4 separate regions of the Homo sapiens genome follow, and regions 2, 3 and 4 are each linked to region 1. Evidence: fine-mapped expression QTL. A gene starts in region 1. Each other region holds a variant in brackets. All regions are shown on one strand. Distances are between the middles of the regions.

Region 1 (7,350 bases):
CAAGTACACCCTGGGTGACAAACGGCTATGAGAGTTCCCAGGTGATTTCTCGAGCAGCTTCAGTTTACCGGAGCCCAGCCAGGAGAGAGAATTTTAGCACAGGAAACGCAATCCCGTGTCCAAGCTCCTAGAATACCCAGGACTGAGAACCAAAGCAACAGACTTTTCCCAGGGAGCCACACTGCCTCCCCACCTCTTCTTTAACCCCTCACTTGGCAGCTCCAGGAGTTGGCTGCTGAAGACAGAGTACAGGAGGGCATTTCGTTGACGTAAAAAAGCTACAAGCCCCTTCCGGGGCAAGGTCCAGCACCATCTGTTAACAGGGCAGCCAGGGAGAAAGGATGGGACCCCAGCACTCTGAGCAGAATAAATCTCTCTTCACTGGCCGAAGACCCTCTGCCTCAAAGGGCCCTACCCAGACTGCTGAGTGAGGATCCCATCCCCAATCTTCCCACCCCTCTCAGGAAGAGCTGGGTCCCAGAAACTCCTATGACACAATAAATCCACTTTCTCTGACAGTGTCAGAGCTTCAAGCCGATACTGCAGCCTACCTCGGATTTAAGTGCACAGGAGACTCCCCAGGTTGGAAATTATGGCTCTAGAGCCCGGTGTGTAGGCCAAAGGTATGGCAAGCCTGTGACAGTCTCGGGTGACATTCCCCACTTCCTTCATTTCATTAACATCCCCTGGGAGGGGGCAGTCAGGCCAGTGCAGTCAGGAGATTGGGGTCTTGCTCTGTGGCTGCTAAGTCTCCTTCCTTCTCTGGACCTCAGGAAATAAAGAGGATGGAAGGAATGGTCCCGCAGTCCCTTCCAGACACACGGGTGGATCTCGAACCTGGAGAATGCCTAAATAGCAGGAAGGAGAGAACCCATGTCCCCTCCCAAAACGCAACCTTGGAAATGGGTAAACATTTAACTCCTGAAAAAGAACTGGCCCTGGTTTCCTGACTCAAAGGGCCCAGACTTAGGGCCTATCCTGTTCCTCACATTTTGAGTGGCTCCCCTGGGCCCTCTTCTGCCAACACTGCCGCAGCTCCACGATCTCCTGGCCATACCAGTCATGCAGGGTAGAGAAGCAGGAGGTCTCAGGGGACACAGGGCTCTGCCCCTTGCCTAGGAGGAGGCTGGCAGGGCCCTGCAGCTCCCACTCAGCCAACCCCCACCCTGCAGACCTGCTGCCCGCTTCTTCAACCAAGCCCACAGGGCTGCTGTCCTTGGAGAGGCAGTGGCCATTCTCCAGGCCCGCAGCTCGGTGGTTAGGAGCCTGGGGCTTACAGCGGCTGGCAACAGACTTCCAGGATGAGCGGCGTTGCAAAGCCAGGCTCTGGCGTGCGTCCTGCAACTGGCTCTCCAACTCGCGTACCACCAGGCGCATGTAGCCAAAGCTTGCCCGGGACAGCACCTTCACCCAGGCCTCCTGGGCCGCCGGCCCTTCTGCGGCCAGCAGGTGTGGGCGCACTCCAGGGGCATCAAAGCAGATGGCAAAGGCAAACTCCTCGGGCACGGGAGCCTCGGCCAGTTCCACTGTGCAGCCTTCCAGCACCACCAGGCTCAGTGGGGCCCGGCCCTCGCGACTCTCAAAGGAGAATAGCAGGTTGCCCTTGAGGACAAACCAGCATCTTCGGCCAGTGCCACTGGGGGTCGGTGGGGTCCCTGGGCCCCCCCAGGTGCGCAGGAAGCCCATGTGGTCCGCTGGGGAGTCGCTGAGTGCATAGTGGGCTACACTCCTCTCGTTCAGCTTCATGGCTCCCACGGGAACTGTGAGGCAAGAGAGATGGCAGCAGATCAGAGAGGGAGGTGGTTCCGTGCCCTCCTGGGGAACAGCACCGGCTCCAGAGGCAACCTGGACCCCAGCCCTGGGACTCCTACTCGCTTGCTGTGTCCCTAAGGTCCCTAAAGTCTCCTGAGAAGTGGGCTCGTCTTTCCTTCCTTTTCTCTCAAAGGGATGTCGTGAGGATCATGCAAAAAAAACTGGACACTGGCGGACTTCGAGAAAAGAATAACGAGATTGCATCAGACAGGAGGCATGGCAGGACCTGGGCACGGCTTTCTAAAATCCAAAGAAACAGGCCCCAGCTGAGCTGAAATGGACCCCAGACCCATCGAAACCACTGTGCTTAAACTATCCCCTCATCTGGGGTCCTCTCAACTCCAACTCTGAGGCCAAGCTTCCAGGGTTTCCATGACCCTCCTGGGCCTCTACTGGCCTCTTATTTGCATATAGCTGTTGAATCTTATTGACCTACAGGCAGAAGCTGAGGCACAAATATAACTTTAAAGAGTTTACTTGAGCGAGAGTAAGGATAACTGCCCAGAACAAACTTCTAAGTTGCCGTGGGGTGTGCTGCGTTGGGCCTTTCCTACAGGTTTTTATAGGCAGAAGGGGGCAAGGATGACAAAGTTGTTTGGCAGGAATTCTCCTTGGTTTATAGAAATAACATTGATTGGTGGGGTGCGGTGGCTCACATCTGTAATCCCAGCACTTTGGGAGGCCGAGGTGGGTGGATCACCTGAGCTCAGGAGTTGGAGACCAGCCTGGCCAACATGGTGAAACCCCGTCTCTAAATACAAAAATTAGCCAGGCACGGTGGTGGGTGCCTGTAATCCCAGCTACTCGGGAGGCTGAGGCAGGAGAATTGCTTGATCCCAGGAGGCAGAGGTTGCAGTGAGCCAAGATTGTGCCATTGCACTCCACCTGGGTGACAAGAGAGAAACTCCATCTCAAAAAAAAAAAAAGAAATAACATTGATTAGTGATTGGCTATACATTGTTGAACTATAGGGTATGAACTATAGGGTGTCCAGTGTACAGCATTTTATGGCTACTTGGTGTCACTCTAGAGCCACATAGCAAGTGGCTTCAAGAGGTAATTCTTGATCCTTTTGTAGTTCATGAGCGTGATGATTGGGTGTTCACATGCATGTGTGAGCTGTGCCACCCTCGAACCTTGTTACCATGTAGGCACATTACCGATCTGACATGAAGAAAAGAAAAGAAAAAAAAAGAAAAAGAGATAATTCTTTAGCTCAAGGGAGGAGTAAGACTTGACAGCTGTTGCGTTTCAGTATGTCTGGGCCTGATTATTTAAAGGGGCTCCAATTCCTCAGATAAAACATTATTTTTCTGTCTCAATCTGCAGCCTTCAGGGCCAGATGGGGAGCTACTCTGTACACAAGAGTGTGGCACAAACCCAGGGTACAGCTGAGAAGAGCTAACCACAGCCATTGAATGTGGGTGCCCCCAGCATCATGAACGGCACTTAGTCCAGCTGTCCTTACTCATGGAAAACCAAGGCCCAGCGCAGTGAGGGGAACTTGCCCAAGGTTACATGGCCAATGAGACGCAGAGCTTCGTCTCCCAAATCCCTCACACTGTACCCACTTACCAGCAGGGCTCACTGGGGGAGGGCAGGGACCTCTTGTCTGGCCACACAGCTCAGCCCTTCGACCACCTGGTTCCCAGGGAACCTGCAAAACAATTCTCAAGCCCAGTCAGCTTATCCCAAAGAATGAGAACTCCTACTCCACCTTCGAGGCCTAATGAAACCACAGCCTCCACCGGGAAGCCTTCCCTGACCCCTGAGAATCCCCCCACCCATCCACCCAGCCAGGAACCCCTGAGCAGCTTAAGGGGATGGGTCCCCTTGTCTTGACCTTTACTCTTCAGACCCCAGCTCCCTGCCTGAGTCCAGGTCAGAGCTACACATGCCCTCATGGTTCCTAGCTTTTCCCTTCTAGCACTTCCTGGCTTTAACTGAAGTCACCTAATCTGGGAGGCCTTCCATGATCACCATATCATCTAAGGTGGCCCTGACCACCAAGGTGGCCTGACCTAAGGTCACCTGACCAGTAGACCCCCCCATTTCTGGTTTGTTTCCTTCATCCCACGACGATGTCATATGTGTTTACAGCACTGTTCCCAGCCCCAGAATGTCTAGGGTGGGGCTCAGCTAAGTTCCCAGGAGAACCCCAATACCCAGCACCGTGCAGGGCTCAGAGAGGCCCTCAGGAGGGATCTGTTGAATTAATGGGGATACATCAGTGGACAAATCGAAGTCTCCCGCCCTCCTGGAGCCTACATTCCCACAGGGGGAAACACACTGTAGGCAAACAAAATAAATACTAATAAATTAATGAAAGAATAATTAGTGAAATAAGAGATAACATAAGGACCGGTAATGCTAAGGGTTATGGAGAAAAACAAGCCAGGCCCCTGGATGGGGAGAGACGCCATTCCAGTAGGGGGGGCCCAGGAAGGGGGAAGAGATCACAGATGTTTGCCAGAGGAGTGGCCTCACTGGGGGTCCTGGGCCCAGCACTGGGGCACAGGGAGGGGGTGGGCAGCCCGTGGGGCCATGACCCCTCCCCTCCCCCGCGTCTGGGGAAGGGCGCTCCCTCCTCTCCACCAGTAGGGGGGCCAGGCCACCGCACACCGGGCCTCCCGCCCGCCCCACCGTCTTCCTGGATTCTTTTGTTGGAGGAGAGGCGGGCTGGGGGTGCGGGACCGCCGGGCCAGTGGCCACTGCGGGGAGCCCCAACCCGGTTGTCGCCCTAAACAGAGGTCACCTCGGTCAGGGTCTCCCTGGCTGCCGCCTTGGTTTCCCCGTCCTCGCGTCGGGGCTGTTCGCCGCCACTTCCCCGCGGCCACACCTTCCCTGGGGCCACCTCCTCCCGGAGCCCGCCGGGCCCACTCTCACCTCCCGCCGCCGATCGCACCGAAGCCCAAGAGGGCGATCCCAGCTCGAGATCCCGCGCCTCCGCCTGGGCTGCAACGTGGCCGCGGGAGCCGGGAGACCCCGCCCGGGAGGCTGGAGTTAACGCCCCTCCCCGCCCAGTATTCGCCAGGCCCGGGATCTCCGAGGCCGCCTCGAGGTCTGCCAGGGCGGGAAACTGAGGCCCGAGAGGGCGGTGAACTGCCCGAGCCACAGCACTGGTCGGTGCGGGCGGCCTCGAACCCAGAGGCCCCCCTCGGACGGTCCGCGGGCCTCGGACCCAGCCCACCGTCCGGAAAACTCTGTCCATCTCTTCCTCTCTGGTCCCCCTCTCCCTGCTCGGCCCACTTTCCCGGCAGAGCCAAACCAGGGATGTCTCTGGGTACCTCCCTAGGGTGGGCTCCTACACAGCCCGCGAGGGCCAGCCAAGCTTTGTTGGCCACCCACCGGGCCACCGGGGTCGGCTGATTTCTGCCTCTGGAAATTACCCATTTCTGCTTCCCTGGCCTGAAACCCACCGGCAGCCCCCAGGCTCTGCACTAGTGGGTGGAGGAGGAGGCCTGCGGTGAAGGTCGCAGGAATGCACAACCAAACCCAAGAGACTGGAACTTCTGGAAGGCCCTGGAAGCCGGAGGTGTCCTCAAACATCTGCCCATGAACCTGGCTCCCGCCTCAGAGCCTTTGCCCTTGCAGTTCCTGCAGCCTAGAATGGCCTTCCTTCCCACCCCCAACCGCAGCTCCACTCCTCAGGACGCCTCTGGACACAGATTTGAGTCTCTGCTCAGTGGTCTCCTCTGGGACCATTGTAAAGCAACCTGCCCTGCAGTCTCTGTCCCATCCCTGGGGTGTTATTTCCATCAGAGCACTCACTGCTAGAGTAAACTTTCCTATGCTCATGCTTTTATTTTCTTGTTTATTGCCTGTCTCCCCTACTAAATTTTATTCAGTTAATACTGTACACCATAATAAATGTGTTAGAAGATAATAAGTGGCATGGAAAAACAGAGGAGGGTAAGGGAGATGGGAAATTGTGGGAGTAGGGAGGTTGCAATTGCAAATAGAGTGGTCAGGGTAGGCCTCACTGAGAAAGTAACATTGGACAAATACTTGAAGGAAATGAGGGAGCCAGCCATGCCAATTCCAGGCAGAGGGAACAGTCAGCGCAGTGGCCCTCAGGCCTGTTGTGCTTGAGGACCTGCAAGAAGGCCAGTGAGGCTGGGAGGCCTGGGGAGGGGCAGACAGTAGGAGGTGGGGGTAGAAGGGGTGGGATGGGGCTCTGTAAATCTGGGAGGGCTGTTACTCTAGACAGGGCTGTGAGGAGGGACCTGAGCGATTTCAAGGCATACTCTGGCTTCTGTGGTGAGAATCAATGTCAGTGGAGGCTGGAGACCAGTGAGGAGCCTGCTGCCACTATCCAGGCGAGATGTCACAAACGCGGCAAGAGCGGGGAGGGAGAGGCAGCCAGAATTAGAATGGCTGTTGAAGGTAGAGAACACAGGATTTGCTGAGGAGTTGGATGTGGGGAGTGAGGGAAAGAGCAGGCAGGACTGCACAGTTTTGGCTTGAGCACCTAGGAGAGTTGTCATTATCTGAGATGTGGAAAGTGGCCGGTGCTTGGTCTGGGTTATGTTTGAGACACCCAGTGGCCATCTGAGTGAAGGTGCTGTTGGGGCTCAGAAAGCGATGCCTAAAAATATGGCACTTGGGCATGCTGAGTACTTTGAACCAAAGGACACTGGAAGAGCCTCAGAAGCAAAGTATCTCTCTGACCTTCTCCTGCCCCCCTTCTTTCTCCTGTTTTTCTCCTGCAAGGCAGGCCATAGAAACTAAAAATCCTCCTCCCTAAGGTGAGTTATAGCAACTACAAATATTGGCTGGGCACAGTGGCTCATGCCTGTAATCCCAGCACTTTGGGAGGCTGAGGTGGGCGGATCACGAGGTCAAGAGATCAAGACCATCCTGGCCAACATGGTGAAACCCCATCTCTACTAAAAATACAAAAATTAGCTGGGCATGGTGGCGTGCGCCTGTAGTCCCAACTACTTGGGAGGCTGAGGCAGGAGAATCGCTTGAACCTGGGCGGCGGAGGTTGCAGTGAGCAGAGATCGCGCCACTGCACTCCAGCCTGGTGACAGAGGGAGACTCTGTCTCAAAAGAAAAAAAAAAAGAAAAAAAAGTAACTACAAATATTACTGGAAACATCCCCCACCTTTCTGTGTCGGGCCTGGCCATAAAGGAATTCTCTGATCTACCTTGCCTGATACTAGGTCATAAGACTCTCATTCCAGAAGGGGTCCTGCCCTCCTCCCAGCAGGAGGGAATGCCACACAGAGAGAACAAGAAGAATCCGAATCTGAACAGACATTGCTGGGTTTCCACACTCAGCTATTAACATTAAATCATTCCCTTTTGTCTAATCGCGTTTATACACAGTTGTCCATTCCTTATTCCTTTTTTTTTTTTTCTGTTGCCCGGGCTGGAGTACAGTGACACAATCACAGCTCACTGCAACCTCGACCTCCTGGACTCAAGCAATCCTCCCACCTCAGCCTCCCGAGTAGCTGGGACCACAGGCACCTGCCTGGCTTTTTAATTTTTTGTAGAGACAGGGTCTCACTATGTTGCCCAGACTGTCCT
Region 2 (7,350 bases), 720 kb after region 1:
GGTCCAGCTGCAGGACAGAGCAGGGTTGGGGAGAGGTCAGGGCACAGCCTGTGTGCTGTGTGACCTCTGTGGAGAGCCCTGGCCTCTCTCAGTTGGCCTCCACACCTGTGGTGGTAGGGTGGCCCCATCCCACCTGAGCCCCCACCTGGCATCCCACTCACCAGTGCCGGGCCTTGGCACTACAGTACTTGAGGTCCTTGTCAGGCTCCACCACCTGCCCGTTTCTCCAGCACTGGCCACATACAAACTTCATCTGCAGGTCAAAGGTGCTGGGCCCATGTGTCCTCGGAGCACCCTGTGGGGGGATGGGGAGGGGGGTTGGTGAAGCTGCAGGCACCAGGCCTGAGGCCCTGGAGTCTCCACACAGGTGTCCTCTGGGAGAGCCTTGGAATAAGCTGGTCTGCTCCCAGGTCTTCCTGGCAGGCAGTGACCTCCCAACTGCAGGCCCAAGGGCTTCCCAGGAGAGCCAGGCCTGGAACGGGGCTCCTCTTTCCACCCTCTGTGGCTGGTCCCTGCCTCGCCCAACTCCCTGGGAGGCCTGCTTTGTGGATGCTGCATTTCCCATGGCAAAGCTCCGTTCCGCCACACCTCCCTGCGTTTGTACAGGCTGTTCCCGCTGCCCTTCCTCCACTCTTCATCCAGCCTGTTCTAGAAACTATCCTTCAAAACTCAGCTCAAGCGCATCTCCTGTGGGAAGCCTGCCCCGGAGCTCTCCTAAGCTGCAGCTGTCCATTCAGTGAGCTCCCACAGTCTCTAAACTGCTCCTGTTGACCGACTCACCCGTCTATGAGTGCCGAACCTGTAGAGCGGGGGGTCCAGGAGATGGGAAGCCACCCCGGCAGGGGTAGGGTGGTGGTGGCAGGAGTCAGCCTTGGGCGGTGGGACAGGCGTCTGAGTGGCCCTGGTCTCTGGCCCTCCCTCCAGGGCAAGGCCTTGCTGGTCTCTAAGGCCCCACCCACCACGTTCCTTCTCTGTCCTACGCCCCAGCCTTTGGCCTGCTCTTCTGTACCCCGGGACAGGGTTGGGGGCCAGAGGTAGGAAAAATGCTCACTCTGCCTTGTCTCCTGCCACCTTGAACCCCCTCAGCTGGCTACATTGGCCAGCCTGCTGTTCTGTGAATGCACCAGCTGTCCCCTCTCCCTCATATAACCTCAAGCCTCCCCGTCTTCCCAGGAGCCTCGAGTGCAGGGTCACCCCTTGCTCTTCCAGGCTGCTGGGCATGATCCTCCTGCCATAGGAACTCCCCCACAGAAGCTGTGGCCTACTCCCCACCGTGTCCCCAGCATTGCCCTGCCCAGGGCCTGCCCTGGAGCAGGAAGGAGCTGTCCTCATTGCTGACTGACCCCTGGCCTGGTGCTGGACAACTCGTGGGCTGCTCAGCCCCAGAATAACACACGTGTGACCCTGATGATAAGGTGAGGTCATGCCTTTACGCGTGGGACGGCCTGCACTGGAGCAGGCAACAAGTGGACCCATGTGGCTACTGACTTCTGGGTGTTCCCCTCCATTCTCACAAGAAGCGTGAGAGGAAGGCATTATTACCATTTCTTGGGCGAGATAAAGGGGGCACCGAGGGTATGGTGGCTTAGCCACTGCACTAATGACAGCCACTGCAGTCCTGAGCTCCTCCCTTAGAGCCAGACCCCATGCCCACGTTGATGACTGCATAGTCTCACCAGCTCCTTGCCATAGCAGGTGGCAAGAGGGGTCTCACTATGTTGCCCAGGCTGATCTCAAACTCCTGGCCTCAAGGGATCCTTCTGCCACAGCCTCCTGAGTAGCTGGGCTACAGGTGAGCTACCACACCCAGCTAGTGTTCTCTCTTTCAAAGGTCCCATAAGCCCCTCACTCCTTCCCTGCCAGGCTCCTGGCCAGAAGGAAAAAGAAACAGATGGGGAGGGGAAAAGAGGACTGCACAGGAGACTGATGGAGGGCAGCAGGGACCAGGAAGAGGGGAGAAAAAGAGAAGAGGACCAGGAACAAAGAAGTCAGGGAGCAAGGGAATGCTCGAGGTGGTGGGCAGCCCTGCCAGCCAGCCTGGCCCAGGGACCCCCCGGCAGCCTGCCCTGCTCCCTGCCACACCCTGGTCAGCCTCTTGAAGGGTCCAGGGGCCCAGCCTTCCCCCAAGTTAATCAGCAGGTGGCCTCATGTGGATGAAAGGGTCAGTGCTCATGCCTGGATGGCACAGAGGCCTCATCTCACACTTACTGTCTCCTGGGCGCTGTGCCCACCCCTCTGAGCCCGAGGGTCCTCCACTGTCATCTACAGTTACAGTGATCCCACCACCTGGGGACGATGTGAGCACAGGGCAGCTTAGGTTGGCTCCTGTGAGCCTCACACCCACCCCAGGAGATACGAGGGCCAGGGTTCTGATCCCCGCCTGGGGGTGATGGACAGGAATGCCGCAGGTGGGGAGGGAGAAGAGCGAGCCCCGGACAGGACGTCAGAGAACCTGGGAATTGCCCCACTCAGTGTGCCCCTGGGCAAGTCACTAACAATCTCTCAGCCTCAGCTTCCCCATCTGCAAATGCCACAATCCCATGCTCTCTTCAGGACCATGGCGAAGATCAGGAGGGATGGGAGGGGATACCACAATCAGTGGTGTCAGTCCGAGCAGTACTGGGATATTTACAAGGTCTCAACGTATTTCTCCTGAAGACCTTTTTTTCTTCTTTTTTTTTTTTGAGATGGAGTCTCACTCTGTCACCCAGGCTGGAGGTCAATGGCACAATCTCAACTCACTGCAACCTCTGCCTCCTGGGTTCAAGTAATTCTCCTGCCTCAGCTTCTCAAGTAGCTGGAATTGCAGGTGCCCGCCACCATGCCCGGCTAATTTTTTTGTATTTTTAGTAGAGACGGGGTTT[C/T]GTCATGTTTGCCAGGCTGGTCTCAAACTCCTGACCTCAGGTGATCCGCTCACCTCAGCCTCCCAAAGTGCTGGGATTACAGGCGTCAGCCACCACGCCAGGCCTCCTGAAGACTTTTTATTTATTTATTTATTTTTTGAGACGGAGTCTCACACTGTCGCCCTAGCTGGAGTGCAACAGCGTGATCTCAGCTCACTGCAACCTCCACCTCCCGGGTTCACACGATTCTCCTGCCTCAGCCTCCCGAGTAGCTGGGACTACAGGCGCCCGCCACCACGCCCAGCTAATTTTTTGTATTTTTAGTACAGATGGGGTTTCACTATGTTGGACACGCTGGTCTCGAACTCCTGACCTCGTGACCCGCCCGCCTCAGTCTCCCAAAGGCTGGTGGGATTACAGGGGTGAGCCACTGCGCCGGGCCTCTGAAGACCTTTATTAATTACAAACTATAGAAATGATCCCTGAAAGTATAGTCTTAATTACAAAGAGGAAAGCTCTAATTTTACAATAGAGAAATGTTTACAATGGAGGCACCTTGAATCAAGTTATGAAAGTTTAATTAGATTGTCACCAGTGAAGGGACACACTGAGATGACGCATCCCCTGATGTGTGAGCTGAGAACACGACATCACCTCTGTGGAATGAGGAAACTCACACGAGCCCAGAGGGATGGACCTTTTACAAAACATCTGGCTCTTCAAAAACCTCAATGCAACACAAGGCAAAGACTAAAGAACCGTTTCTTCATCAAGGGAGATGAAAAAGAGACACGACAAGGCTCATGCCTGTAATCGCTGCACTTTGGGAGGCCAAGGTGGGAGGATTGCTTGAGCCCAGGAGTTTCAGATAAGCCTGGGCAAGATGGCAAGCCCCACATCCCCAGACCCACGGTCTTAAAAAATAGACAAATCAGCCAGGTGTGGTGGTGCATGCCTGTAATCCCAGCTACTCAGGAGGCTGAGGCAGGAGGATCACCTGAGACCAGGAGGTGGAAGCTGCAGTGGGCCATGATCATACCACTGCACTCCAGGCTGGGTGACAGAGCAAGACCCTGTCTCAAAATAAAATAAAATAAAATAAAATAAAATGAGACACAACAGCTGAATGTGTACATTATCCAAGTTACTTTCATAACTTATTCGAGGTGCCTCCATTGTAAACATTTCTCTATTGTAAAATTAGAGCCTTCCTGTTTGTAATTTGGGGACAATTCACAAAATCTGAATAATGGCATAGTATCAGAAGGCCTTACCATGCTGCTGCTGGCCTTCCCCGCATGCGCCTCCATCTGCTGCCAGTACTTCTTAGACTCCTGAACGATGTCTTCGTGGGTCATGCCTGGGGAGGGTGGGGGCAGACACAGGCATCTTTCAAGGTGCTCAGCAAGGAGGGAGGCAGGGGGTCCACGAGGTGCCAGGGACCCCCGAGGCCCAGCTGGAGGAGCCCTATTCTCAGCCCAGCCACAGTAAGACATGGGGTACAAGGGAACCACTTTGTCCATCTGCAAAATGGGAACAAAGACCTGCTCCGAGCCTCACTGGAAGTGAAAGAATTAAATGCAGCCAAGAGTGGGAAAATGCAGTAGAAAGATATTGGCTCTGTACTGTGGTAGGGAGTCCTCTGCTCCCATGCCAGTGACCCTGTCTCTTGGGCCGGTGACTCAGCACCCTTCCCTGACCCCCATCTCCCTCAACAGGGCTGCAAGCCTAGTGCCTGCTTGGCAGCCCCTGGCCTCACTGGCACTTAGGGCTCCATGCCTGCCCAGCCTGGCTCACCGGTTCACTGTGGTACCACGGCTCTTTACTGCCAGTCCCCAAAGGGCAAATACCCCAGCCTGGTGGCATGGACTCTCCAGTCTGTCTCCCCGCCAGCCTCAGACTGTTGCCACTGAGCCCGACCTTGGAGATCCAGCTCACAACTCTTCCATGAAGCCTGCCCTCTTTTCAGCGCTCTCCATCTTTCTCACGTCTTTCCCACAACAGATGTGGCCTTCCACCTTGACCTATGGCCCCTGCTCCACGACAGCTAATCATCATCGGTGCTTACTTGGGGCAAGACACTGCACTTGACATCCAGTTTCTTGCTGATGATCTGCAAGTATGTATCTACAGGCCAGACCTTTCCTGTGAACCTCCAGATCCCCACATCTGCTGCTTCCAACATCTCCATGTGAAGTCCACCAGGCAGCTCAGACTTCCCACGTCCCACACTGAGCCTGAGCTGCTCCTCTTACAGCCTGCCCCCTCTTAGAACATGGTAGCCCCATTCTTCCTGTTGCTCTGATCTTAGAGTCCACCTTGACGCTCTCCTTTGTCTCATACTTCATATCTGATCCATCAACACATCTTGTTGGCTCCACCCTCAAAATACACCTAGAATCTAACCACTTCTCCCACCTCCAGCATCACCACCCTGGCCCGAGCCACCCTCCCTGATCTCCCGGCTTCTGCCCTTGCTCCTCGATCTCCACCCAGCAGCCAGAGTGACTTTTGCAAAGTACTGATCAGATCATATAACTCCACCCACTTAAAACCCTCCTCCAGACACTGTAAATCATATTTAGAACAACCCCAGTTGTTCCTGTTTAAGGCCTAGAGACTCTTACATGCTCAGTCCCCTCCAACCTCTCAGGCCTCATTCCCCTTCTACTGACTAAGCTGCTCTACCCCCAGGGACCATCCTTTCTGTGCAGAGCTTGCTCCTGCCTCAGAGACTTCAGTCTGGTCCCTCTTCTGGAATGCACTCCCCGCCCTTCCCTGGTCAAAAGTCACTTCCTCAGAGAGGCCTTCCCAGCCATCTTACCTAAAATGCTCCCATCCCCGAGTCTGTCTCTGTCCCATTGCTCGGCTTTATCTTCCTCATAACACTGAGGCACGCCTGAAATGCTACCACTGCATTTCACCAACTCTAAGCAGACACTGAATGTTATATGTACCATATTTTAAATCCCCGCCCCACAAAATGCTGCTAATTAAATGATGACAGGCAGTAGGGGTAAATGTGCATCCTAGAATGGATGGAATACAGGATTTATTCACCTGTTGATATATTATCTGTCTGGCCCCCACTTATAAATGTAGGTTCTCTGAAAGTAAGGGCCTCGACTAGACCATGGCTGAATGCCCTGACAAGAGAAGGTGCTCAGTAAATCCCTGGTGGGTGAGTGGAGAACACCTTCCAATCCCCGCAGCAGCTCTGTGAGGAAGAGATGGGGCTCCCCATTTCCCAGATGAGCACTGGAGGCTCAGTGAGGAGCGGGGACTTGCTGCCGACCACCCAGGGAGCAAGCAGAGGTCCTGCTGCAGGAGCCCAGGTGCTCCTCTCCCCTCTCCGTGCTCCCTGGACGGTGCCTACGAAGGGAAAAACCCAGATCTCCGAGCCTGGAAGCGCCCTGAGAGCAGAGCTTCTCTCCTCTGTGGTGCCTGGGACACACAGAGAGCCCACCCCGCAGCCACCTCTCCTGAACTCTCCCGAAGCCCCCTCCAGCGACCATGGGGCCCTGGCCTGTCACCCCAGTCAGTCCTGCGCTCCCTTCACCTGCGCCGCCTACCCCTCACCTGAGTCACCTGCCCTCCACCTGCACCGCCTGCCCCTCACCTGAGTACTGCTGCAGCAGCCAGACCTTGAGCTCGATGAAGCTGTGGGCGAAGTGGCAGCTGTCCTCCCGCAGGCAGCCGTAGCGCACCTCATGGCGGCACACGTCGAACTGGAAGTGCTCCTGGAACTGGCGGATCTTGGAGTACTTGAGGGAGGTGGAGCGGACGATGTGCACCAGGCACCTGGCGGGCGGGCAGGCAGGAGGGGCACGATGCAGTCCGCAGCCCCTCTGACCTTCTCTCCTGGTAGGGCCACCTTCCCAGTGCCAGGCTCTCCCTGGGCACCCCCTGATCTATGTACCAAATCCAGGCCATGGATGACACAGGAGGGCAGAAACAGGGCTCCTATGCTCAGGCACCCCTGGGCCTGGGTCCCAGCGCTGCTTTACTCCTGTCCCTCCCCCAGGGTTCAAAGATGGAGCTGCCAACAAGCAAAGGGCACCGCCCTCAGGTTTCCAGCTTGATTCTGCAGAGCCGGTCCTGCATCCTGAGGAACACTAACCAAGCATGTCCTCTGGGCCAGGAGTCTTAATTACCCTCACTGCAGCCCCAGGAGCCTAGAGCATCATCAGCTTTACAGACGAGGAAACCCAGGCTTGGACGTAAGACAGGACTGGCCCAGGAATTGGACCCAGGTCTGTCTGACTGCAGGCCCTGGGCTCCATATGCACACCATGGCAGAACCAAGGGGAACAAGAGGGAGAAAGGGGTGGTGCCAGACCTGACCCAGGCCTCCCCTCACTGCCTGACACTGATGTCATGACATTGGAGGGTGCTGGGCTACAGTCAGAGACGAGGCCCCCCGCTTGCTGTCTGCTGAGTAAGCTGAGTAAGCTAAGTAAGCTACTTCCAAGCCTCAGCTTTTTGTTCTGTACAACAGGGCCAGTAA
Region 3 (7,350 bases), 81 kb before region 1:
AAGCAAACAAAATATAGGGTTCTTCTGCCACTCCTCTGGGCAGGTGGAGTGTGGCCAGTGTATGGGGACAGTCAGATTTACTCAAGTTGATATGAAGACATATTTCCAATCAACATTAAGGGTTATAAAAAAATAATGGAATGTTAATGGACTTTTTTAGAGAATGGAAATACTGGAAGGAATATTGTGAAGCAGAAATAAGCAATTATAAATGAGTTCTGTGTTCATCAATTTGGGGCAGCAGAAATGGCAGATTAATTGTATTTTAATGGCTACATCAAGCAGTCCATTTCTCATTTCACTCCGCCAGGATGGAGGTGTGGGTGGGTGCGCCGTGCCGGCCGTAGGACCAAGCTTAGGCAACTGAACAGGACCTGCACAGAAATGATGGCTTTTTTGAGCTAGTTGTTGTCTCATTCTGGTCTTGACTTGGCATTAATACAGTTAAAATGAAATGGATAGACTTCAGGTGTCAAGGGCTAAACCACAAAACTTGAAAAATATGTATCTTGAGGAAAATATTTTCCTGACAGCAAATGTTTGTCATTTTGTCTTTTATTCTTTTGTCCCCTTTTGATTTGCCTGAGTGGAGCACTTGTGATTGTTCTAGGTCTTTCCTTAAATTGGCTTCAGTAATGACCTTCACTGGGGAGTGGCAGTGATACACGCATGCCTCCTGACTCCAGTTTCTGGCTTCTGCAGTTCTCCTCAACTGCTCAAGTGCCTTTTAGTTCCTTTAGTGTTTGTCTTAATTGATTTTTTTAAAGTAGTTTTATGTTCACAGAAGGATTAAGCTGACGGTACAGACAGTTCCCATATAACCCCTTCCCCCCGTATGCATACCTTTCCCTCTATCAACATCCCAACCAGAGTTGGCATACTGTTTTCACCCAAAGTCCATAGTTTATACTAGGGGCCACTCCCGGTGGTGTACATTTTATGGCCTTTGACAAATGTATAAAGACCTGGATCTGGCAGGGCGTGGTGGCTCTCGCCTATAATCCCAGCATTTTGGGAGGCTCAGGTGGGTGTATCGCTTGAGTTCGAGAACAGCCTGGGCAACATGGCGAAACCCCATCTCTACATAAAAATACAAAAATTAGCCAGGCATGATGGTGCATGCCTGTAGTCTCAGCTACTTGGGAGGCTGAGATGGGAGGATCACTTGAGCCCAGGAGGTCGAGGCTACAGTGAGTCGTGATCGCGCCACCACACTTCAGCCTGGGTGACAGCAAAATCCTGTCTCAAAAAGACGAGGACGCACCATGATCCAGAGTAGTTTCACTGCTCCAGGGATCCTCCGTGTCCCACTGTTCATTCCTCCTTAGCCCCAGTCCCTCACCGCTGAGCCTTTTACTGTCTGCAAAGTTTTGCCTTTTCCAAAGTATCATATAGTTGAGATTAGATAGTAGGTAGCCTTTTTTAGATTGGCTTCATTCACTTAGTAATGTGCATTTAAGGTTCACCCGTGTCTTTTCATGACTTGATAGCTTGTTTCTTTTTAGTGATAAATAATTCCATTGTCTGGCTGTACCACAGTTTATCCATTCAACTGCTGAAGAACATCTTGGTTGCTTTCAAGTTTTGACAATTACAAATGAAGCTGCTGTAAACATCCCTTTGCAGGTTTTTGTGTGGACATAAGGCCTCAACTCCTTTGGGTAAGTACAGGAAGCACGATTGGTGGATTGTATGGTAAGAGTATGTCTAGTTTTGTAAGAAATTGCCAAACTGTCTGGATCACCTGAGGTCAGGAGTTTGAGACCAGCCTGGCCAACATGGTGAAACCCTGTCTCTACTAAAAATACAAAAATCAGCCAGGCATGGTGGCTCACGCCTGCAGTCCCAGCTAAACGGGAGGCTGAGGTGGGAGGATTGCTTGAACGCAGGAGGCAAAGGTTCCAGTGAGCTGAGATCATCGTGCCACTGCACTCCTAGCCTGGGTGACAGAGTGAGTGAGACTCTGTCTCAAAAAAAAAAAAAAAAAAAAAAAAACTGAGAAAAGGAAAAGAAATTGCCAAACTTTCTTCCAAAGTGTCTGTACCATTTTGTACTCCCACCAGCAATGAATGAGTTCCTGATGCTCCACATCCTTGCCAGCATTTGGTGTTGTCAGTGTTCTGGATTTAAGCCATTCTAATAGGTGTGTATATAGCCATTTATTTTTTTAATACTCATAAAGTTTTTAAATTGTGGTTAAAAAAATGTACCATCATAACAGTCACAGTACAGTTTAGTGGGAAATGTGTTCAGATTGTTGTGCAACCAATCTCCAGAATTTTTCATTTTATACAACGGAAGCTTTACCCATTAAACTGCCCCCCTGCAGGCTGGCCCTGCCCCTGGAGCTTTCCATTTCTGTTTCTAGGGTACAAGCAGCCCTCGATACCCACAGGCTCCGCATCCACAAATTCAACCACACATCAAAGATAACTTGAGAAAGTATAACAACTAAAAATACAAATAAGAGCAGTACAGTATAGCAACTATTTATGTAGCATTTACACTGTATTAGGCATTACAAATAATCTAGAGATGATTTAAAGTATACAGGAGCATTTGCATAGGTATACTATGCCATTTTACATAAGGAACCTGAGCATCCTTGGGTTTTGGTATTTACCGGGGGTCCTGGCACCAATCCCCTCCAGGATACCCAGACACAACTATTCCACTGCCCATAACCCCGTCCCCTTGCAGCTGTGGAAACGCAGAGGTGCTGCTCTGAGGGCAGACAGACCCCACCACTCAGCACTCTTGAGTCGGACCCAGCAGAAACCCATCCCATGGGAGGAGCTGGGAATTGGAGGGTCTCTCCCAGTAGCATTGCTATGCCTGGCAGGGGGAAGGGCAAGAACAAGCAAAATGCTCCAACTTGACTACCCTTCCCAGTGCAGTCCCTCCCTGGCTCTGCACTAGCTGGCATTGCAGCATCCTAACTAGTTTCTAGAATTCTCACGATGTTTTGGTCTCCTATAGCTTTAACATTGAGCTCTCTAGGAGAACGAGAGCCCGCAGTTTCCTAGTCTACCACTTGCTGACATATTTTCACACCATCTCACTTGGCAACGTCCATAGGGCCTGCCAGGGCACAGTGCACTTTTTACCATGACACAGCAGTACCACTGTTCAGGGAAGGCAGGTTGGATCTGTTTCCTAAAAATAATAAATCCCAGAAACATCTATACTGACCATTAATAGAATGTAATGTCCAAACAGTATAGAATAGTAGCTCAGCATACACATTGGATGTGGACTCCTAACACCGCTGTGTGACTTGAACCTTGTTATGTGATCTCTGAGCCTCAGTCTCTGTGCCTTGGGGACCATAAAACCACCTCCTTAGGGGGCTGTGGGAGGATTAATGAGCTAGAGCACACAGTCTGACCAGCAGTTTCTGGCACATAAGTGCCCGATCAATGGAAGCCACAGGTGCACAATGATTGGAAAAGGCCACAGGCATTGTTATTAAATGTTTTCCTCATGCTGCCATATCTTGAATTACAGGCCTCTGGCTGGTAAGGAGG[G/A]CACTCGGGAGGACACTGCCCACATTGCAGGCATGCCTGTCCCTGCCCTTCACACCCCCATCATGATTCATGATGACTGCTTGGGGAGGGCCTGACACCTCAAAAGGCCAAGAGTGCATACAGGTAATGTATAAAGGGCCACCATGTAACAAGCACCCAGACCATCCTGCTGTCCCTGCACCTTGATTCTCTCACAGTCCCAAATAGAACAGTGCTGCCATGTAGGACAGGAACATTCATTCAGCTGAGGCCAGTTTGGGAGACCACAAGCCAGATCTGAGAAGTCCCCAGATAGGCATGGGTCTTGCTCTCTCTGTCAGTTGAGTAGCTTCAAAACTTCTGTTGGGCCAGGTGGCTCATGCCTCTATTTCCAACACTTTGGGAGGCCAAGGCAGGAGGATCACTTGAAGCCAGGAGTTCCAGACCAGCGTGGGCAACATAGTGAGGACCCATCTCAACAAAAAAATTAGCCGAGCGTAATGATGTGCACCTGTAGTTCCAGCTACTCAGGACGCTAAAATAGGATCTCTTGATTGAGCACAGGAGTTTGAGTGAGCTATGATCACAGCTCTGCACTCCAGCCTGGGCAACAGAGCAAGATCTTGTCTCTAAAAAATATATATATATTTTTAAATTTTAAATAAACTGTTCTCCCTGCCTTTTGTTCCCCAGATCCAGTCTTCATCCAGACCTGAAAAGACCCAGGCTCCAGCTGCTGGCCTCCTGCTGCCCCTCAGGCCACCTGCACAGGAAATTCCAGGGGTGGGTTGGTCCCACTGCCAGTGCCGTGGCCTACAGTGCTAGGCAGCCCCTCAGTCAGCTAGACAAAGTTCTCCATGAATCCTTCCCAGAAAGTCCTGTTCCAGCCTGGGACAACGTCCCCATGGACCCTCATGGCACTGCTGGCTTGTCATGTCAGCTATGTTACCTTCCTACTCCCCGTGGTCATCATTACGTTGGGGCATTGACTCACAGCCTTACCACCATGCTCCCAGTACACAGCCCAGCACCCAGTACAATCCATACCTCCAACTTGGGTGGAGCTCCCATGCCAGGCCACCTCTCGCCCACCACCCTAATCTGGGTAGGCAACTAGAGCGAGCAGGGGCAAGGACCTCTGCAGCAGCCCATACCCGCCCTGGCCTGACCCTGCACCCACTGGCAGCACAGTCAACACAGCAGGTTGGCTCACAGCAGAAGGCAAAGGCCATCATCAGCTCCCTTTATAAGGGAACGGTCATGCACTGGGTGTGCTGAGAGTGTCCTGCCTGGTCCTCTGTGCCTGGTGGGGTGGAGGTGCCAGGTGTGTCCAGAGGAGCCCAATGGGCAGTGAGGCAGCCATGGGGCTGGATGCACTGGTGCCCCTGGCAGTGACAGTGGCCATCTTCCTGCTCCTGGTGGACCTGATGCAGCAGCACCAACGCTGGACTGCACGCTACCCGCCAGGCCCCCTGCCACTGCCCGGGCTGGGCAACTTGCTGCATGTGGACTTCCAGAACATATACACCTTCAACCAGGTGAGGGAGGAGGTCCTGAGGATCCCCCACCACCAGCAAACATGGGTGGTGGGTGGAGCCACAGTCTGGACAAGAAGCCAGGCTGAGAAGGGGAAGCAGATTTGAGGGACTTCCTGGGGGAGGGCATTTATGCATGGCATGAAAGATGGGATTTTCCAAAGGCCAAGGAAGAGTAGGGCAAGGGCCTGGAGGTGGAGCTGGACTTGGCAGTGGGCGTGCAAGCCCATTGGGCAGCATATGTTAGGAGCACAAAGTCCCCTCTGCTGACACCAGAAGGAAAGGCCTTGGGAATGGAAGACGAGTCAGGGTCCTGTGTGCCGTTTAAATCAGGAAATCAGGCTGTGCGTGGTGGCTCACGCCTATAATCCCAGCACTTAAGGAAGCCAAGGTGGGCGGATCACCTGAGGTCAGGGGTTCCAGATGAGTCTGGCCAACATGGCAAAAACCGGTCTCTACTAAACATACAAAAAATGAGCTGGGCACAGTGGTGCACGCCTGCAATCCCAGCTACTTGGGAGGCTGAGGCAGGAGAATTGCTTGAACTTAGGAGGCAGAGGTTGTAGTGAGTGGAGATTGTGCCATTGCCTTGCAACCTCGGTGACACAGCCAGACAATGTCTAAATAAACGAATAAGAAATCAGGCCGGGCGCGGTGGCTCACGCCTGTAATCCCGGCCCTTTGGGAGGCTAAGGCGGGCGGATCATGAGGTTAGGAGATCGAGACCATCCTGGCTAACACAATGAAACCCGTCTCTACTAAAGATACAAACCAATTAGCCAGGCGAGGTGGTGGGCACCTGTAGTCCCAGCTACTTGGGAGGCTGAGGCAGGAGAATGGCATGAACCCATGAGGCAGAGCTTGAAGTGAGCTGAGAACACACCATTACACTCCAGTCTGGGCGACAGAGCGAGACTCTGTCTCAAAAAAAAAAAAAAAAAAAAAAAAAAAAAAAATCAACGGCTGGGCGCGGTGGCTCACACCTGTAATCCCAGCATCTTGGGAGACCAAGGTGGGGGGATCACAAGGTCAGGAGTTCGAGACCAGCCTGGCCAACATGGTGAAACCCTGCCTCTACTAAAAATACAAAAATTAGCGGGGCACGGTGGTGGGCACCTGTAATCCCAGCTACATGGGAGGCTGAGGCAGGTGAATTGCTTGAACCCGGGAGGTGGAGGTTGCAGTGAGCCAAGATCGCGCCATTGCGCTCCAGCCTGGGTGACAGAGCCAGACATGGTCTAAATAAATGAGTAAGTTAGAAATCAAGGATGAAGGGATATAGTGGACCCGGTTCAAACCTTTTGCACTGTGGGTCCTCGGGCCTCACTGCTCACCGGCATGGACCATCATCTGGGAATGGGATGCTAACTGGGGCCTCTCGGCAATTTTGGTGACTCTTGCAAGGTCATACCTGGGTGACGCATCCAAACTGAGTTCCTCCATCACAGAAGGTGTGACCCCATCCCCGCCCCAGGATCGGGAGGCTGGGTCTCCTCCTTCCACCTGCTCACTCCTGGTAGCCCCGAGGGTCGTCTAAGGTTCAAATAGGACTAGGACCTGCAGTCTGGGGGGACCCTGGCCTGATGGAGGCCCTGACCCAACGGAGGCCCTGACCCTCCCTCTACAGCTGCGGCACCGCTTTGGGGACGTGTTCAGCCTGCAGCTGGCCTGGATGCCGGTGGTCGTGCTCAATGGGCTGGCGGCCGTGCGTGAGGCTCTGGTGACCTGCGGCGAGGACACCGCCGACCGCCCGCCTGCGCCCATCTACCAGGTCCTGGGCATCGGGCCGCGCTCCCAAGGCAAGCGGCGGTGGGGGACAGAGACTGCGTTTCCGTGGGTCCTGGGTGGGCGGTGACCGTAGCCCAAGCTGGGCTGAGAGGGCGCGGGGTTGTGGGCCAGTGAGTGGGTTGGGGACAGCGAGCCAGGAAACCACTTCCATTGGGGAGGTGCGAGTCTGTGGGCGGGAGGAAGAGGGGCTTGTGAGTGGGCGGGGCAACTGCCGAGACCCACCAGGAACCGGGTGGGCGGAGCTGGCGCCTTTCCCAGCTGGAAGCGGGTGTCTAGAAGCCGGGATGGACTCTGCTGTGGGCTCAGTATGGGCGGGGCGGGACGGGCGGGATCTTCCCTGAGTGGAAAGGCAGTCAGGGTCGGAAGAGCCAAGGTGGGGCCAAGACCCAAGCAAGGTGAGTGAGCAAAGAGCAGGCCCTGTGCCCAGCTGGACAGGGCCAGGGACTGCGGGAGACCAGGAAAAGCACAGGGTTGGAGTGGGCGGCGGAGGGCGGGGCCAAGGCCTCCATGACCACGCCCAT
Region 4 (7,350 bases), 83 kb after region 1:
TAGTTCTAGAACCTGATGTCCCAATAAAAGGTTGTCTCACATGACTAGCATGTGTGCTTCCTTTAACTGGACACTGGGAACTGCATAACTCACTGTGTTTCCCTCTTTACATTGGCTGCCTGTGAGCTCAGGGCCTGTTCAGGTGCTTGACTACAGAAACTTTCTTTCCTATTCCTTTCTTTGACCCAGATTTCTCTGGCAATCTGTTTGTACTGTCCTGTAGTTTTGTGATTTTATGTGAAAGGCAGTCTAAAGTCATTTCTGGAAGTAGACTGGGCATAAATGCTAAATATAGGAATGAACCTAAAGTAGATTCATCTAAAAGGAAGTGAGAGATGTCAGAGACACGCAGGAGAGGGAGAGAAAGCAATGTATGAGGGAAGGAGGGAAAGGGAGAAAGAAGACAAAGTCGGAAGCAGAGACAGGCAGTGGCCTGGCAGCAGAGGCCAGTTGAGTGGAGAGCAGCAGTAGGCTCTGGTGACAGGTGGTAGCTTTGTGACACTGAACACGACACAGACTGAAGGGTGGAGCTCCATTTGTAGGCACTGATGCTTTCTGCAAGAACCCAGCTCTGGCCTACTTCTCTGCCTTCTCATGGCCTTCCTTTTCCCAGGAAGCCCCAGCCTTACCCCCAGACCACCCCCAACTTACAGGAGGGTTGTCCTGAACTCCCTGCCCCCTACTCAGGTCTAGCTCCACTGCCATCTGTCCTTGGAGAATCTCTATAGCCCCAGTTTGTGTGCAGGTTCCGAGAGAAGAGTTGCCTGTGGCTCACCTGCTCCCAGCACTTTTAAATGAAACCTCCCCCAGATCTCCTGAGTGAGGCAAACAGCTTTGTTTTGGGACACAAGGAAAGGAGACAGATAATGGACAGGCATGGAGGAGCCAAACTTACAAGGGACTCTCCAGGGAGGGCAGTGAAAATACCTCACCCCTGCATGCACACACACAGGCTCTCTCGCTCTCTCTCTGTCACACACACACACACACACACACACACACACACACACACAGACAAGATGCTCCACAAATACCAGACAGGCCTGTGGGACAGAGTTGAGAGGAAGAAGGTGGTTGGTGGTGGTATTTGGGATGTGTGTGTGTGAAGTGGGTATGTGTGATGACACAGAGAAGTGGTCGTCATGGGTTACTGTCGTGGCTTTCCTCTGTGTCCACGCTCACCGGAGGGAGGCCTCCATTGTCATTGAGCCGCTTGGCCCTGTAAGTCTCATAGTGGATGTTGTGTGTCACTTCCTTGAGGTCCTGGAGGTGGGTCCTAGAGGACACAGGGTGAGAAGAAGAGGGCTGCAATTAGGGGCAGGAAGAGGAGGCGGTGACACACATCACTTCGAGGGACTGGACCCAGTGAATGGGAACCACTCCCAGGAGCTAAGGATTCTTCTACAGCACCTTCCATTTTGCAACAGGAGCTGGAACTGGGGCAGAAAGCTCTGTCAGAGAGACCTGGAGATGCAGGAGGTGAATCTGAACAGATAGACCCTGACCCCAAATAATTCAACCTGCTGTCTGGACAGCTGGAGGGGAGACATCTTACCTGATGACAAAGTCTCGAAGCAGGGCAAACTCACAGTGGTTGAGGTTTTCCACTATGAACAAAACAAAACAAAGCAAAACAGGTAGTCAGTTCATTAATACAGCAACACCCAGGAGGTGAGCTTCTGTTTGGGTCACGGAGGCATTTAGGAGAAAGCTATGGGACAGGTCATTTTTTGTAACCCTTCCAGAGATTTGCTCACTTGGGTGTACTGGATTTGATTCATTGAACAAATATTAAGCAGCTACAATGGGCACGACATCCTTCTAGACGCTGTGGCATAATAGCCAAGAGGGACTATAATTTTTACCATTTTATAGAAGAGAAAACTAATACCAAGTCTGAGAAACTGGCCAAGGCCTAAGATACACTTCCCATTCTTCAGAAGCTTATAATCCGGTTGGAAGTAACACAGAGAAAATAATAATTGAGCCATTTTAAAAAGGTCATGCACTACATGACAAATCCAATTCAACATATATTGAATACCTAGTATTTGCAAATCATTGGCCAAGCACTGTTGGAACAGAATGAGGATTAAGACATGGGGCCAGGCGCTGTGGCTCATGCCTGTAATCCCAGCACTTTGGGAGGCCAAGGTAGGAGGATTACTGGAGCCCAGGAGTTTGAGATCAGCCTGGGTAACACAGTGAGACCCCCACCTCTATTAAAAATAAAAATAAAATCACCAGGCATGGTGGTTCACATCTGTAATCCCAGCACTTTGGGAGGCCAAGGCAAATGGATCACCTGAGGTCAGGAGTTCAAGACCAGCCTGACCAACATGACAAAACTCCATCTCTACGAAAAATACAAAAATTAGCTGGGCTAATTTTTGGGGATAAATAAAAAATACAAAAATCGGGGTCCGCACCTGTAGTCCCAGATACTTGGGAGACTAAGGCAGAAGAATTACTTGAACCTGGGAGGCAGAGGTTGCAGTGAGCTGAGATTGCGCCACTGCACTCCAGCCTGGATGACAGAGTGAGACTCCGTCTCAAAAAAAAAAAAAATCTGAGTCTGAAATCAAGTTTCACCACTAACAAGTTATGTGCTTTGGACAAGGCTTTTAACCTGAGCTTCCGGTGCTTTGGTAGCTTATACTCTGAGAACAGGAGCACCCGCTCTCCTCCCTTCATAGGGTTATCATATTGAATGAAATCATTAAAGTGATTCTTTGACCACTTTCAGAATCATCAAGACCCGCCCAGGGTCACATCCATTCATAATAAAATGGAAATGGCAACACCTGAACAACCCTCCGGCAGTTTGTCAGATCACATCCCCCTTCCTATGAAAACCTTTCTCCAGTTTTTCCAGGCCTTACTAATCTCTCCATGTTCTGAACTCCTTTGATGCGCTAAGTCAGTGCCACCCAGTCAGGTGCTAAATCAGTCTCTTGTTACTCCTGCCTGTGAGCATCGTCTTCTCAATGAGACTGTAAGCTCCTTATGGGCAGAATCTGGCTGGCATTCATTTCATATGTCCTGAGACAGTGCCTTGACCTATAGATGCTTAATAAATGGTGACTGGATAACTGATCAGCAACCAGTTCTTCCAGAAGATGCAGTGAATTACCTTCGATGATCCCCCATGGAGTTTTTCGGCCGAGGACCCTCTTGCCATTCACTTGGTACTCCTTGTCACTTCCCACCACAGCAAAAGGCATGCTCTCCTGCTGCACGGGGCAGAAACACAAACCAGACACATGTGCACCGTCATCCTCCAACAACCTGGACTTTCAGGAGCAGGATGGCATATGGTCCTCTAGCCTTGAACCACACACTTCTGATGCTCATTCAGAGATACTACTGATGGCAAGGGCAAGGCTCAGTCTCTTGAAAAGAGCACCCGACTGAGATTGAAGAGTCCTGGGTCTAGTCCCAATTGTACCACTGCCTCACTGGTTAACCTCAGGAATCAGCTCTCCTTCAGCTGCAGAGCGCTTTGTACTTTCTTTTTTGAGACAGAGTTCGCTCTTGTTGCCCAGGCTGGAGTGCAATGGCACAATTTCAACTCACTGCAACCTCCACCTCCTGGCTTCAAGCAATTCTCCTGCCTCAGCCTCCCGAGTAGCTGGGATTACAGGCATGCGCCACCATGCCTGGCTAATTTTTGCAGGTTTTGTAGAGATAAGTTTTTGCCATGTTGCCCAGGCTGGTCGTGAACTCCTGGGCTCAAGCGATTCTCCCACCTAGGCCTCCCAAAGTGCTGGGATACAGGCATGAGTCACCACGCCCAGCCAATTTAATTTTTTTAAGTTATTCTAGCGGGGGAAGCCTATAAGCCACTCAGTCTAACCCCTGCATTTCATAGAGGGGAAACTAAGGCAGGGTCTGACCACAGCATAGATCCTCCTGGACCCCAGCCTGATGCTCTTCCTGCCTGCTGCCCCTCCCATCACCCCAAATACTGTTTTTGCCAGACCTTGTTGGGGAAAAGGAGGCTTTTATGTGGTCTGGGGATAGAAGGCTTTCTGGGTACAGGGAGCCCTTCTGTGGGTTCACAGTCCAGGGCCATAGTCCTCCCCATCCCCCTATGTCACTTCTGGTCTGGGTCAGGCAAGGTTGGGGGGAGTACAGAAAGGGAAAAGACAGACAGAGGACGTGCACAATACACATCCCAGAGGTCGCAAGGGGGCATCAGTGGAGGAGCAGTGCCCCAGGCACCCACCCTGATTTTGTCATTCTC[C/T]GTCTTATCCTCCAAATCCTCATCAAATTCCTTCTGGGGGTAGAATTCAATGCCATTTACTTCAAGCTCCTTGCGAACCTAGAGGCGAGGAGAAGAAACAAGGTAGTCAAGTGTCAGGGTAATGGAAAAGAGGGGTGTGTGCACCTGTGTGCGTGAGCTGAGGTCAGAGAGCCAAATCCAGCCTTGGATAATCCACAGTCATCTCTGAACTCTGAGACCCTGAGCAGCAGGAAGATGGTGAATAAATGCAAGCCCCAGCTATACAATTACAACCTAGCCTGAGAGGAGGAAGAGGCCAGGAGGTGCAACTTCAGGTCCCAGGCGCCTCGCAACCAGCTTGCTCATCTCAGGGTCCGCGAGACTGGGATTTACACAAGCAGCACAGGTGAGCCCACTGGGGAGTGCTCAGACCCCTGCATGTTATATTCCTGATTGGAAGGAAGAAAGGTGAGGCTCCCCCTACTCCGAGACTGTTTGCCCTCTTTCAAGGTCGACTTAAGTCTTGCCTTCTCCAGGAAACCATCCAGGACCTCTTCATTTTCTATTTGATTATAAGTTTTGTTTGTTTGTTGTTTGTTTGTTTGTTTGAGACCGAGTCTTGCTCTGTTGCCCAGGCTGGAGTACCGTGGTGCGATCTTGGCTCACTACAACCTCCACCTCCCGGGTTCCAGTGATTCTCCTGCCTCAGCCTCCCTAGTAGCTGGGCTTACAGGCATATGCCACCACGCCCAGCTAATTTTTGTATTTTTAGTAGAAATGGGGTTTCACCATGTTGGCCAGGCTGGTCTCGAACTCCTGACCTTAGGTGATCCACCCGCCTTGGCCTCCCAAAGTGCTGGGATTACAGGCGTGAGCCACCGCCCCCAGCCAATTGTAAGTTTCTTTTTTTTTTTTTTTTTTTTTTTGAGATAGAGTGTCACTTTGTCGCCCAGGCTGGAGTACAGTAGCACGATCTCAGCTCACTGCAAGCGCCGCCTCTCGGGTTCATGCCATTCTCCTGCCTCAGCCTCCTGAGTAGCTGGGACTACAGGCACCCGCCACCACACCCGGCTAATTTTTTTGTATTTTTAGTAGAGACGGGGTTTCACCGTGTTAGCCAGGATGGTCTTGATCTCCTGACTTCGTGATTCACCCGCCTCTGCCTCCCAAAGTGCTGGGATTACAGGCATGAGCCACCACGCCCAACTGGATTGTAAATTTCTTAAAGGCAGCAATTGTCTTTTCATTTCTCTCAAATCGCCCCTCCCCAACCCTGTACATCCAGCACAGGGCTGAGCTTATAGAACATGCCAGTGAGGGCTGGGCACGGTGGCTCACGCCTGTAATCCCAGCACTTTGGGAGGCCGAGGCGGGCAGATCACGAGGTCAGGAGATCAAGACTAGCCGAGACCATCCTGGCTAACACAGTGAAACCCCATCTCTACTAAAAAGAGAAAAACAAAATTAGCCAGGCGTGGTGGTGGGTGCCTGTAGTCCTAGCTACTCAGGAGGCTGAGGCAGGAGAATGGCGTGAACCCGTAAGGCGGAGCTTGCAGTGAGCCGAGATCACGCCACTGCACTCCAGCCTGGGCGACAGAGAGAGACTCCAAAAAAAAAACAAAGAGAAGATGCCAGTGAGGACTAGTGGCCAGTTGACTCACTAATTAGTCTAGCCCTTCAATTAGGCTAACGTTGGAGGAGTGATTTCTTATGTACACAGTGATACATGTATTCAGTGGTCTTCACAGGTAGGTTTGGAGGGTGGGAAGAAGGCAGCCCAGAGCTGTGCCATCTTTTCTTCATCATAGTCCCCAGATACCACCAACCTCAGCCTCTTGAATGGTTAAGAAGGGGGCTGGGGTGGAGAATTGGGGGAGGGTTGAGGGTGGGGGTGAAGGCAGAATGATGAGGGCTAGGAGATGGCCTGAACCCAGCGGAGAGAAAGGAGGGGATGGGAACAGGAAAAGAAGACAGGGGGCCTTCTCACCCTTTGCTTGAATTCAGACTTCTCCTCCAGGGTCATGGTGTCAGCCTTAGCAATGACAGGGATGATGTTCACAACCTTGCTGAGGTGTTTCATGAACTCAAGATCCAGAGGTCGCAAGCTGGGGCACAGAAAAGGCAGAATCATCAGAGCCACCTTGCCCTCCCCAACTCAGCCACCACCACCACTCCAGGACACCCACAGGAGAAGAGGACTGGGCTGGGCATCTGGCTGAGGCCAAGAGGCTGCTACCTCTCGTCTCCGACACAGCCCCACTGCCTTGCCGTCTGTAGAGCAGCCTCAACACCTGCCTTTTTCTTTTTCAGTCCCCTTGCAGATTCTGCCTCTCTTTAAGCCCCCCTCAAACCACCACTTCAGGACATCTTTTCTGACTCAGGGATTTCTTTCTCCTGGGAGCATCTGTGGACTACTGTCTCTACTCATATGTCCTTGTGCGTGTGTGTCTTTTTTCCTTTTTTGTCTGTCTCAAAAACAAAAAACAAACAACAACAACCAAAAAAAAACAACACTGTGTGTGTCTTTTTTTTTTTTTTTTTTTTTGAGACAGGGTCTCACTTTGTCACCCAGGCTGGAGTGCAGTGATATGGTCATTGGCTCACTGCAGCCTTGACCTCCAGGGCTCAAGCAATCCTCCCACCTCAGCCTCCAGAGGAGCTGGGACCACAGTTGCGCACTACCATGTCTGGCTAATTTTTAAATTTTGTGTAGAGACAATGTCTTGCCATGTTGCCCACGCTGGTCTTGAACTCCTGGACTCAAGCAATCTTCCTGCCTCGGCTTCCCAAAGTGCTGGGATTATAGGCGAGAGCCACCGTGCCTAGTGTGTACATCTTGTTCTGCCTATCAGACTACTTCTTGACAGGTCTCCTCCTAGCCCCCAGAGTTAGTCCTGCAGGGCCAAACTGGAGGCCTTGCCCTTCCCACAATCTGACAGTCTATGCCCCCATCCTACCTCAGGCTCTGAGACCCCAACTTGGCTCTATTTTGCAATCTCAGGGACTCACTAAGTCAGTCTGTCTGATGGTTCATTCTGACCAGGGGGTCGAAGCCTAGGGAGGGATAAAACCAGCCTTCTGTTGAGTTCCTGGGTCTAGCCCAGGGGTCTTGTTTCATCTCTCTT

What was found. PIP is the estimated chance that this variant, and not a neighbour inherited with it, causes the effect.
Region 2: its variant is the best candidate, but not a certain one, in a credible set for the expression of PHETA2 in subcutaneous fat (GTEx, PIP 0.51).
Region 3: its variant is the best candidate, but not a certain one, in a credible set for the expression of PHETA2 in whole blood (INTERVAL, PIP 0.81).
Region 4: its variant is the best candidate, but not a certain one, in a credible set for the expression of PHETA2 in whole blood (TOPMed, PIP 0.68).

What each region holds. Positions count from the first base shown.
Region 1 is chr22:42,071,690-42,079,039 of GRCh38, reverse strand. It overlaps PHETA2 (PH domain containing endocytic trafficking adaptor 2), which reads right to left and starts at 4,792. Exons shown (of 3, transcript NM_001002034.3): 1 at 4,699-4,792; 2 at 3,388-3,469; 3 at 1-1,760. The coding sequence starts at 1,746. The coding sequence ends at 967. It also overlaps the pseudogene SNORD13P1. RefSeq lists enhancers at 836-1,398, 4,009-4,739, 4,740-5,472 and silencers at 3,741-4,035, 4,275-4,654.
Region 2 is chr22:41,348,414-41,355,763 of GRCh38, reverse strand. It overlaps ZC3H7B (zinc finger CCCH-type containing 7B), which reads right to left. Exons shown (of 23, transcript NM_017590.6): 16 at 6,463-6,644; 17 at 4,118-4,203; 18 at 162-295; 19 at 1-7. Among named protein-coding and RNA genes, the nearest start is that of TEF, 30 kb to the left of the region's middle. The variant C/T (reference allele first, on the strand shown) is at 2,865.
Region 3 is chr22:42,152,519-42,159,868 of GRCh38, reverse strand. It overlaps the pseudogene CYP2D8P. Among named protein-coding and RNA genes, the nearest start is that of CYP2D6, 25 kb to the right of the region's middle. The variant G/A (reference allele first, on the strand shown) is at 3,528.
Region 4 is chr22:41,988,547-41,995,896 of GRCh38, reverse strand. It overlaps SEPTIN3 (septin 3), which reads right to left. Exons shown (of 12, transcript NM_001363845.2): 7 at 6,213-6,330; 8 at 4,229-4,324; 9 at 3,134-3,233; 10 at 1,556-1,607; 11 at 1,183-1,276. Among named protein-coding and RNA genes, the nearest start is that of WBP2NL, 6.6 kb to the left of the region's middle. The variant C/T (reference allele first, on the strand shown) is at 4,247.